Linked DNA regions of Homo sapiens: region 1 is linked to region 2. A link means that fine-mapping ties the variant in region 2 to the plasma level of a protein whose gene starts in the linked region. Region 2 holds a variant in brackets. A gene starts in the other region. All regions are shown on their forward strands.

Region 1 (5,379 bases), not on the chromosome of region 2:
AAACACGCGGGTGGGGGATTAAAGTGTTTGAGATGACAATCAATTTCAATTGAAAGGAAAACTATTGAGGACTGAAGTCTTAAGAATAGTGGGCTGACCCTCTGTTTTTTGAAGCTTGCAGATTTGCTTTTTGTTTTTCTTTCACCCACTTCTCTTATGGATCAGTGAGTTTCCTAATAAAAATAAAGTAACCTAATTGTTATAGTTTTCTAAGTCTGCAAAATTATTGCTCTTTGGAGTCCCTGAGCCACATTTCCTATTCGTTTGCTTCCTCTGGCCCCATCATCACACATTTCTAAAGCTGACTCATAGGTCATGTGCATAAGAAATTTGTTACAACGATTCTGCTTGTACTTTGGCGTGATATTTTTTCTTACTTAATTTTCCTTGTCGTGATTACAATAGATGCAACCAATAGCTTTTAATAGGTGGCACATACTCATAACATGGTTTGCTCATGGTTTAGAAACACCAATAATTTAAAGTATGAATTCTGTAAATCTGCAACCACCCCCTCCCCCATTTTCAATCTCATTCATTTTCTAGCAGCATAAATCAGAAAGCAAAACCTTTGTTGCTTTAAAGATCCTGCTTTGCCTTTTTAAAATGTGTTCTTAAAGATGAAATAATTATGCTGCTTTCCTGGATCAAGATTTCAAAGGAAGAACCTCCTGCGGATACTTATGTACACTTACATACGAAAATGGATGTTTAAATGCAGGTAGATGAGTATTTGTCCTAAAATGTGATCTTCCTTGTTGATGCTGGAGCTTGAGGAGCTATCCCTATGCTCTGCTGCCACCTTGGAAACTCAGAAGGATTTACAACGGAGTTCTGCACAGGGGAAGCTGGAAGCAGCATTCCCACAGCCTCTTCTGGGGCTGGCAAGGCTCAGAGAGGCATTTGAAATGGCTATTATTGACACCCATAGACTTGGGTATGTTTCAGAGAGAAACTATAACATCTATCTCATGGGAAAACACACTTTCTCTGTTTTTAAATAACTCCGTTTCAGCAAGATCCATGTGTGTAGCCTCTGAATACTCTATAAAGGCTCCGTATTTCTTTCTTTCTTTCCTTAGTCCGGAATGGAGACAGAAGAAAGATTCGGTTGAAGATGTCCCTGTGTGGATCTCAGTTTGCGCTCTGAGCGACGTCCTGGCTCATTTGGGTGTGACGGTGAGAGCAGAGGCGCTCTGCTGACAGTTTTTTCTTGTCTAAGCTTCCATTCCGCATCCACAATATGACTCGCCTTCCACTCCAGTTAACTTCTTGGAAGTCCAGAGCACTTAGTCAAAGCTGTTTACAAAATGCAAAGCATCTGGGCGGCCAAGGCAGAGGCTCCTGTGTTCTCTATGTAACCGCCTCCAAAAAAGCTGGGAAATTTCGCGGATCAAAATGTAGGCGCTTAAAGCTGACCCTCTGCTGTCAATGTTGGGACTTAGATACATTTTTTGCATCGTCATTCTTGTGTGTGTTTCCCGTTTATTCCATTCTAAGGCTCAGGCTCGCGCTGTTTCTCTCGCGCGCGCTGTCCCCTCTCTCCATTTCCCATTCACACATCAAACTCCGTCCTCCGCACCCCTATCTTCCCGTGTCTTCTTAGTTATGTGAATGTGTGTCATTAGGCTTACTCGGACACTGGATGGGTGAGTGGGAGGCAGCTTTTCTTGCGGTTTCATTTACACTTGGCATGGGTGGGTGGGTGCCCTCCACAATTCGTCTCGCACACGGAACACAGTTAAAATCTGTAGCTAGAACGAGTGAAAAGTTCCGAATCTTTAAAGCGCAGCTAGGACAGGAAATAATACAGGGTTGGGGGATGTGGACGGGGGCGGAGAGCAGAGAAGTAAAGGAATAAAACCAACTTCGCTGGCAACTTCAATAAATCCGGTAACTGGAGGCAAAAAATAGACTCCGAGGGCTGGGTCTGGTCCGGATGAAACGCTAGGGCTCCTTCCCTTCCTTGAATCTTGGGCGCTGGAAGCCAGCCACGGGCGTCTTGCCACGCGAGTGCCCCTAGACAGCAACACACCCACTGGAAACGCACGTGAACAAAGCTCTCGCCCCCGGGAGCCGCTGCCTGCGGTTTCCTAGTCGATCCCAGCTTCTCTAGGGAGTGTCAGGCGCACACAGGGTTAAGTTAGTTCCCTCCCTGGTAGGAGGGAGAGGAGGAGGAGGGGAAAAGCAGCATACTGTCTCAGGCTGGGTACCTTGTAGTTAGTTGTACGTTCGAAACCTGTCGCCGTCACTTGCGCGTTTGGCATTATCCATTGTCACCGCGGAGGAACGAGCGCTCGAGATATCATCAGTGCCCGCAAATCTCCGCGCCAAGGCGCTGAGCTACTCCTTTCCGAGGTGCGCCTCTGGTCCTCCGTCCCTGGTGCCCAGCAGCGGCGAGGCGGCATCTCCGCTCCCGCCGCCGTGTCCACCGAGCCCTGGGATCAGGGTGGCAGTTCTCAACGATGGGCAGGAGGGACCTCGGCGGCGACCCCTAAAACAATACCATGCCCCGGGATCCCCGCTGCTGCCGCGCCAGCGTCTTCCCTTTCCACCTCCCTGACCCTGTCGGATTCGGATGAGCCCATTGCAAGGAGAAGACGCAGCCGTCAGGTAAAAGGGGCTGCGTTGCCAGGTGAAGTTTCCAGTAACCGGCCGAGCTGCTGCTACGCTGGCACCACGCTGTCTCTTCGGGGGATTTTTTTTTTTTGAAAGAGCTGGGGGTGGTCATCTTAAGTGGGGTGCTCTAGGCTTTGTCTTTCACCTGGAGAGAAAATAGGCAGCTTAGCTCTCTCTCGACTTTGGGGACATCTGTCTGCTGGTCGAATCCACCTCCTCTACGGAGCATCATGACTGAGTTCTGGGTCAAAACGCAAATTTTCTTGCCTGGTAGATGCATCGATGCTAAATTGGGGTTCTCAGTGCCCCTAACCTTGTCAGAGTTCAGTCTCCTACTTCCCTAGATTGAATCTCTTAACTTTCACCAGTAACAACCCTCTCCCCTCCACAAGCTGTTGTTAATGTCACCAGCGTTATTATCAGGCTGTTGTATCTAAAGACACCAACCTACTACCTGCCCGTAATCTGGGATCTATTAGCAGTTAAACAGATGCGGTGGATACTAATTCCTTTTCCTTCCAGTTGGTGGGGGCGGGTGGGGCTTTTTCCAAAACCAAGTCCCTTCCAGCCCTGCTTGTCCTCTTCGGGCTGGCGGGCACTGAGCTGGGGCCATCACGCCTTTCTAGAGCGCCTGCGGAGGTGGCGAAGGCTTGGAGAGCATACGAGGCGGAATCCGGATCGAGTGAGTTCCTTGAGCCGCTTGCGTGGGACGCAGGGAGAGGGCGAATAACGCCCTCAGGCGCTGAATGCAGGGGCAAGGAGCCAGCGAGGGTGGCTGGAGCAGGCCTTGCCAGCTGTTACCAAGTCTCTCCACAGGCTTGGGGGCTTGGGGCCTCCTGGAAAGATCCCTCCGCCGCGCTGACCAGTACGGGGCTCGCTCCCGCACTTTGAAGGCTGCCGCGGTCTTTCGTCATTTATAATCAAGCCCAAGATCAAGGTTGCAAGCTGAGGTCGGGGTACTGACAACGGGAATGAAGCCATAGGGGAAGAGGATAACTGGGACGGGCTGGACCCATACTTGATACCCGGGAAACTCCTAGAGCGTGTGGTGCTCCTGCCAGCGGCAGTTACTGGTGGAGCTGAGGCCACCGCTACTGTCGTCGTTGGCGCTTTGCTTCTGGAACCTCCCAGCAAGATGGCACTCACTGTCTGTTCCCTTCCGATTAGCACCCCCAGCCGCGCTCCCTCCTCCCCGGGATACGTATTAGTCACATACTGTGGGGAGAAGATGGGCTATGTAAATGTAAGTCAACGCGCTTTCCCAGCCACCTTTGCATAATGCAACAGGAACAGCGACCCGCGCGCACGAACCGGGTAGTGTGCGCGTGTGTGTGCTCGCGTGTGTGAGCGCGTGTGCCAGCGTGCGTCTCCGCGCGGGCGTGCGTCTGGGTGGATCCTTGCGTGGCTTGGGAGGCAAATCGGGCGTTTCTCCAAGTCGTCTTAACATGATTTAGGCTCTCAAATACGTGAAAGCGGTAGACACAACAGGGATGCGAAGGAAATAAAAAACAATTGGGGAAGTGGTGCCAAGTCACTCAGGCTTTGAACTGAGGACGAGTAGTGCGGTCGCGCCTGGGGCGCGTCCGGAAATCATCCTCAGCCTGTGGCGGCCACTGCCCCACTTAAACTCTTCTGCGGGGAGAGTTGAGCGGATCCCTGGGGGGTTGGTCCTGGGCTAGTTTTAAACTCTCCGGTTGCATCTCGCGTGGCCCCACCGACGGCGCGTCTCGGCGTAGCTCTTGGCGCGGGCTCGTTCTCCCTCTTCTGTTCAGATTCAGCCTCACCGGACTTGTTACAACATGACAGCAACTTACTGGAGGCAGGAAGAGCAGCACGAAATAAGATGAGAAAACCAAAAACATCTCCTCCTTCCTAAATAGAGACGTGCACCTAGCTTTTTTTACTTGTTTGTTTGTTTTTTACATTACCCTTTAACCTTTGGAAAGAGACTGCGAAGTGGAAACGTTGCCTGTACAGAAATCAGGCTTCTTAGCTGTCAAGACTGTTTCCTAATCTTTAGGCTGAATCTTTCTTTGTCCGCTGCAATCTATGGGGAAATTTAACAACGCTCTTGCCAGAAGCAGCCAGGTTGAAGGAAGAAAGTGGGGGTGTTTAAATTAATCCTATTAAATTTTGGATTACTCCCCCAGTTAAAGTCATTTAAGGTGGTCCAGGATGAGGGAACTAGTGATGGGGTGAGGAGTGGGGGGCACATCACCAAGGTTGCCTGCATTTGAAATAACGCCATTTTGGTTGAGAGGTTTGCTGTATTTTACCCTCTAATCTCACATTTCGATCATTTCTCAGTGTCTAAGTAATAGATCCTCCCTCTTGGCAGTACACCATTAAGCAGGTATGGGGAATTCTCCTTTCAGGGTTCAGATGGTGACATTATCCCTAAGGACTGGTGGTAGGAACGGCATGTGCCGGGTAGATAGAGAGAAGGTCAGGGTGGCATCTGCCGGGTTAGCCAGGCGCTCTTCAACTCTTTTCAGAGAGGACAGGGTTAAAAGCCAAGTCTGACTTTGCCTCTTGGAAATCACTGGGTAGCAGCCGCGCCTCCCAAGCATTCTTTAAACCAGAAAAGTAGGAGGGACTCCGGGAGAGAGGGAGGGAATGAGGGAGGGAGAGAAAGAGGGCTCCAGGAGCGGAGCGCGCCAGAGCGCGAGGGACGGAGGGAGAGGAGGAGCGCGGGAGCTGCGGAGGCGATCCCGCGAATTCATTACTGTAAACATATCCGGGGGTGTCAGGAGGGGTAGG
Region 2 (5,379 bases):
TGTATAATTGTATTTCTTTACCATGTCGACTTCCTGTCTCTTAAAACGCAGCAATTACGTGTGTGTTTGTGTGTTTCTTCATCTGCTTCATGCATATAAATATGTGCGGGTGTCTGGGGTTTTGTTGTTAGCTGAGAGGTGGGAAGTGTTTCCACACATCTGAATATTTGCTGCCGACCTTCTTGATGATCCGTCTGTTAATGTTTTTATCAAGCTGGCACACCTCATGTGGGATCTTAATAAAGTAATCAGCATTTTCCCTCTAAAACAAGTTTGAGAAAATCCTAGTTAAACTATTCTCTTCAACACTTGAAGGCCTTGGTTGTACAGCAAGCAGCTACTAATTCAGGAGGATTTATTTGGCTTTTCCTGAGTTCTCTGAAAAATCTATTTGTGTAAAAAGAACATACTGCATGATCCCCAGGGCTCCTGGAACTGAAAACTCAAGGATTTAGACGAAGCTACCCAGTTTGTTTAATCATTTGAAGTTTTGTTTCAGCAGCTCATGCTTTCCTCTTACATTTTGGCAGAGGCAGAAATCTCAGATGATTGTTTTTGGGTACACATGTAAAAATTTTCTCATTAACCTTGGGGGTGGTGTAATGATAAAAGAGATAACATTTTGTTTCAAAAAAATAATACTAACTGAGCACATATTTCAATGCATTGCAAATCTGAAGGAATTGTCATGGCTAACACCATCTCAGTCTCAGTATTTGTGCCCCAGTTTTTTTTCAGGTCAAGAATGTAGGGAAACACTGTACTAAGTTCTCATTGGATCCCTTGATGCCTCATAAGACACCCAGACCCCTAGCTCTCAATTTCATTTCTAAATGTACCCCAGCTACTAGAATCTCTCTCACAATGATGACAAACATCCTCTTTAATAGGACAGATAAATATTCCTGTCACTCTTGACTGAGAGACAATACTCCAGGTCTAGGGGACATGATCTGCAAGGAACTTCCCATGATTCAGGCACCACTATTCCTGTTCATTTTTTTTCCATTGTCCCGGGATTTACAGCTTTCAGGAGTACCTTCATGTTACTCTTCTCATAAGAGGGCAACACCATATTTTTCTCACTGAATCAGAAGACCCAACACCACCTCTTTCCCCAGAGCACTGCCATTTGCATCCTATCCAGCTAGGTAGGGCAAAAGTGTCTTTCATTAGACTAAGGACCTCCACAGGCAGTGCTTAATTTTCATTTACCTTTGCCTCCATAGTGCCTTATATGTAGTGCCTAAATACGGATGGTGGGTGACTGCTTAGAGTAATAATAGCTAATATTTTTGTGACATTAGAAATGGACACAGTGGTAATACAGGTCAGGATTATAACTCAAAATCTTGGCAATGTGATGTTTATTGGAACAAAGGAACCTAAAGATCAGAATGCTTTCTCTATGTAAGATGACTAGGCCTGTAAAGTAGAGTGGGTCACTATTCTACAGAAACACAGATATCAATATTTACATTACAAATAAGATATATTAGGCCATTCATACAATTTACAAAATGGTTCATTATAGGACTCACTAACTGAAAGTACCCAGGTGACATTGAACGTCCAGTTTATTTTCAATATAATCTTCCTGAAATCTCTGTATTAATTTGGAAAAAGTCAACAAAGTAAACCATTCTTAATGTAACAACTGGATTTAAACTAGGGAGGATCAAAATGTTTAGGTAACAGAAACTAGCAGTCCAATGTGGATCTTTCTACTTTCTCTCTTTTTGCCTTTGCCTTTGTCTACGTCTACTTTCTCTCCTTTGCCTCTTCTTTGTTTATTTAAACATATATATATATATATCTATCTATCTCACATACTCAGAGGTTTATTGCTTAGTTTTGTTTTTTATAAAAATGGAGTCATACTATACACACTACTCTGCAACTTATTTAAGAGTATACTATGAATATTCAGTTGGGTCTTATTAAAGATCTAACATCCTTTTTAATTGCTGCTTAATATTTTGTACTTTATACCATTATGTATTTAACCAAGAATGTCTTTATTAAATAATATAATCTTCACCTATGCCAGTTAATCTGTTATTCTTAGTGATTTAAGCTCCTTTCTCTCATCTGGAAAATACAGCAATAAATAGGTAAAATCCACAGTTTCTCCTTCAAGTGCTACGTGCAATAGGCCCATGAGGTAACCCCTGAAATTCATGTTTTCTTGGAAGTAATCAGCAGACCTGGAGTCCTGTGTATGTTTGTGAACTCCAGAGGTCCACACTCCTTCACTTCACACTCAGTGTCCTCCATACTTAGGGCTTCTACCCCCCTGCCCAGTTTTGTTAAAGAAATTACTCCTTGGGACATGGACAAAATAAAAGAAATAGCCATTTGTGTTTCTGTATCCAACACTTCTTTGTCCTGTCATGGGTTCAGTTAGTTCTACCATGAAGTATGGACTGTCTGGTAAGAGGAAAGAGTTTTAGAGATTAATGAGGGTAGCACTAGTGAAACTAGTCTCAAAGATGGCATAGTCAATTTCCTCAGATATAGACCAATACTGATATCTAAAAAGTTTATTCTTATGGGTAGGGATGTCTGGATGATAGCAATTTAAGTCTTCAAGGGAGAGCATC[T/C]CCGTTGCTTATAGGAACAATCATCTGGACTAAGTCATGACCACAGTTCTAACAGGGAAAGTAAGCAAGATCCAGCTCCCGAAGAGGAGTTTGCATTGGCTGCAAAGGGGATCCAAGACCTTAGCTCAGTGAGCCAAGCTTCAGGGAAGGACTGCAGTTCCCTTAGGGACATAGAATGCTAACAAAGAACTGGTTTTGGAGCTTGGTCATGGGGCTGGCCATACATGTTGGGGGCTGGCATGTTTATATGACAAGGTATTTAGGCTTTCCACACCTAAATATTCAGCTATATCTCTGTAAGTGCATAGATCCCTAAAGAGTTTGCCCTGGGTACATTGTGCTGGTTGTCAGATAAGAATACCGAGGCTAATACCAGGGCCCTCCCTTTGTTAGAACTCTACATCTAATAAACACCCAGGCTTGGTTCTCATTGAGTCACAGGCTGGGTGGGGCTGAGCCTACAGGTTGAATATTCTCAGTTCTTGACTCTGGATCCAGGTGGAGTATGCATAGACTGATAACAACTTGTTTTTGCAGTAAGTCTGAAGATTAAAGCCCTTAGTTGAGCCAATACCTTCCTTCTCAGATAAGTCAAATCCACATATTCAGAATGGGAGCAGGAGGCAGAAGGGAAAATTTTGTAACCTCTTAACAGTTCTAGACTTAACACATCCTACTATCAATCTGAGTGGATTTGTTCCAGATGCTTGCATGGCTGAGATATGCAAAAAACTGTCTCCCCATGCTGATTGGTAGCATCTTTACATGGGCAAGTCTTCCTACTTGTAAAGAATGAGTTAGGTGTGTCTGGGACTTACTAAGGAGTCTCAGGTGTTGACAGCTTAAACACCTTGCCATGTAAATATGTCTGATCTCTCTTCCAGTTCTTACACAGTTGGCTGTGGTTACTGACTTCTTATTTTGTTCAGGTCTAAATGAAATTGATCTTGATCTATTACTTTACCCTAGGCTGGAGAAACAACTTTAGTAATTATCTCCTCACCCCTACTTCCCTTTTGAGCTTTGTAAAAATGATTAAGGAGATCAGAATATATGGCATAAATTATCAATGGTTCTTCTCCATTGGAGGTTAGAGTTCCACTGTCAAAAATTAGTAATTATCATTCTTCTTACAAGTTTAAGACTCAAATGGAACTGACTTTTTCAGCCTATTTGTTGTCTATGGTAAACTAACAGCAAACAGCTGGATGTTCTTCTGTGGTTACATAACCTTAATGGAGATTAGTTCCTTTTATCCTTCTATACTGCTTCCCTACCAAATGATTAGATTTTTTGAGGGGCAGATATAAACCCCTTCCATTGTTTAAAAAACATTGTTAATAACCCTTCGCACTACACACCAAAGTGCAGCCTTTAATATAGTTGCCAGAAGCAGTTCTGAGTGAAACACTGAAATGAAAAGTAAACTCATGTCATTTGGTCTATGATAAGCATTCACAGTTTGAAAAACCCCAAACAGGGATAGTTAAGTTGCAAGCACTATTTCCAGAATGAGAGTTGAAAATTATATACATAATGTGGAAACAATAGATCAATGAAAGGGAGTATAGAACAAAAGAGAGAAGAATTTCCATAGCCACTCCATAGAATATTAGGTCTATAGAATGTCAAGAGGGGTTATGTCCAAAACAGGGTTCTAGGATCAGATAAGTTTGGAAGGTACAGAATTAAATGTCATTAAATAGATTTACTTCTTGCAGTATTACTCATTATGCACTGTGAATTTCCAAGACAGGGACAGCGTATGCTGCATTTCCCAAACTTGTATGGTCTGATGAATCCACCGAAGACAGTGCTTTTATAGGGGGACGTCATGATGCCAAAGAGAAAAGAGCTTAAGAAAGGAGTTCAACAGGTCAAGAAGATTAGTGCATAGGAACTTACAGAGGGGAAATTGGTGCCTCCACAGCATTAGTTAGAACTAGACCCTGATATAATAGGGGACCAGAAGAAAGGAGGGCATGAGGAAGAGAGGACTGGGCTGCACATCCTGGCTTTGACTGGAACATATTTCCCAAATCCTTGGTGATCAAAGCCAAAGTAAATACAACCAAGGTTATATAGGAGTAATAAGTGATGGAGGTAGGGAGTCAGCTGGATGAGGCAGAGACTGGAAATCCTTGTTTTGACCTCAAGCCTCAATCCTGAACCATATTGCTATATTGAAATATAGTCAAGAAATGAATGTATCATGCATAGTGGCATGTCAGGAAGTTCAAGTGTGAGAAAGCCACTTTGTTATAGGCCCAATTCCTGGAGGAGGATATATGCCTCTCCAGATCCATTTGGCTTCACTTGTCTCCACAGCTGTGGCAATCAGTTCTGCATGGACTCCAACTATCTTCCTGTGGGGACTGCCGACCAGTGTCTCATCAAATCCCATTCCCACTGCGGATTTCTGTGTTGGTGCTACCTGGGGAACTCAGGCTGAGGCAGTGTCTCACCTAGGTAGCAGCCTCTGTTTCTTGTTTATTTAGAGAGTAATTATGAATTCATAAACTTTCATATTATTACAAATCTTACTGGAGTATCTAGTAGGGGCTTAGTTATATGCTAAACAGTTGTAGTTTGAAAAGCCATAATAACTCTGGTTATTTGACAGATATCAAGGCAGGGCAAAGAGATACCCAACTAGGGTAGGTCATCCCATCAATATTTTGGAAACATATGATTGCCTCACATTGTATATCCTTATCATTGTTTTCTTTTAATTATTTTACATATAAGTTTAGACAGTTGACTGTTGGGAATTCCT

Which allele goes with the higher level. Positions count from the first base shown, and alleles are read on the strand shown. Strength reflects both the effect of a copy and how common the allele is.
In carriers of allele T in region 2, the plasma level of the protein whose gene starts at base 2,223 in region 1 tends to be higher than with C alone (moderate association).

What was found. PIP is the posterior inclusion probability: the model's chance that the variant is causal. The UK Biobank Pharma Proteomics Project read protein levels with antibody pairs (Olink). The fine-mapping took linkage between variants from a reference panel, not from the people measured, so its PIPs are less certain.
Region 1: it holds the start of FLRT2, and the variant in region 2 is fine-mapped to the plasma level of the FLRT2 protein (UK Biobank, PIP 0.92).

What each region holds. Positions count from the first base shown.
Region 1 is chr14:85,527,922-85,533,300 of GRCh38, forward strand. FLRT2 (fibronectin leucine rich transmembrane protein 2) reads left to right here and starts at 2,223. Exons shown (of 2, transcript NM_013231.6): 1 at 2,223-2,613. FLRT2-AS1 (FLRT2 antisense RNA 1) reads right to left here and starts at 3,738. Exons shown (of 2, transcript NR_184170.1): 1 at 696-3,738.
Region 2 is chr20:14,646,822-14,652,200 of GRCh38, forward strand. The region is part of intron 4 of MACROD2 (mono-ADP ribosylhydrolase 2); the gene reads left to right. Among named protein-coding and RNA genes, the nearest start is that of MACROD2-IT1, 95 kb to the left of the region's middle. The variant T/C (reference allele first, on the strand shown) is at 2,604.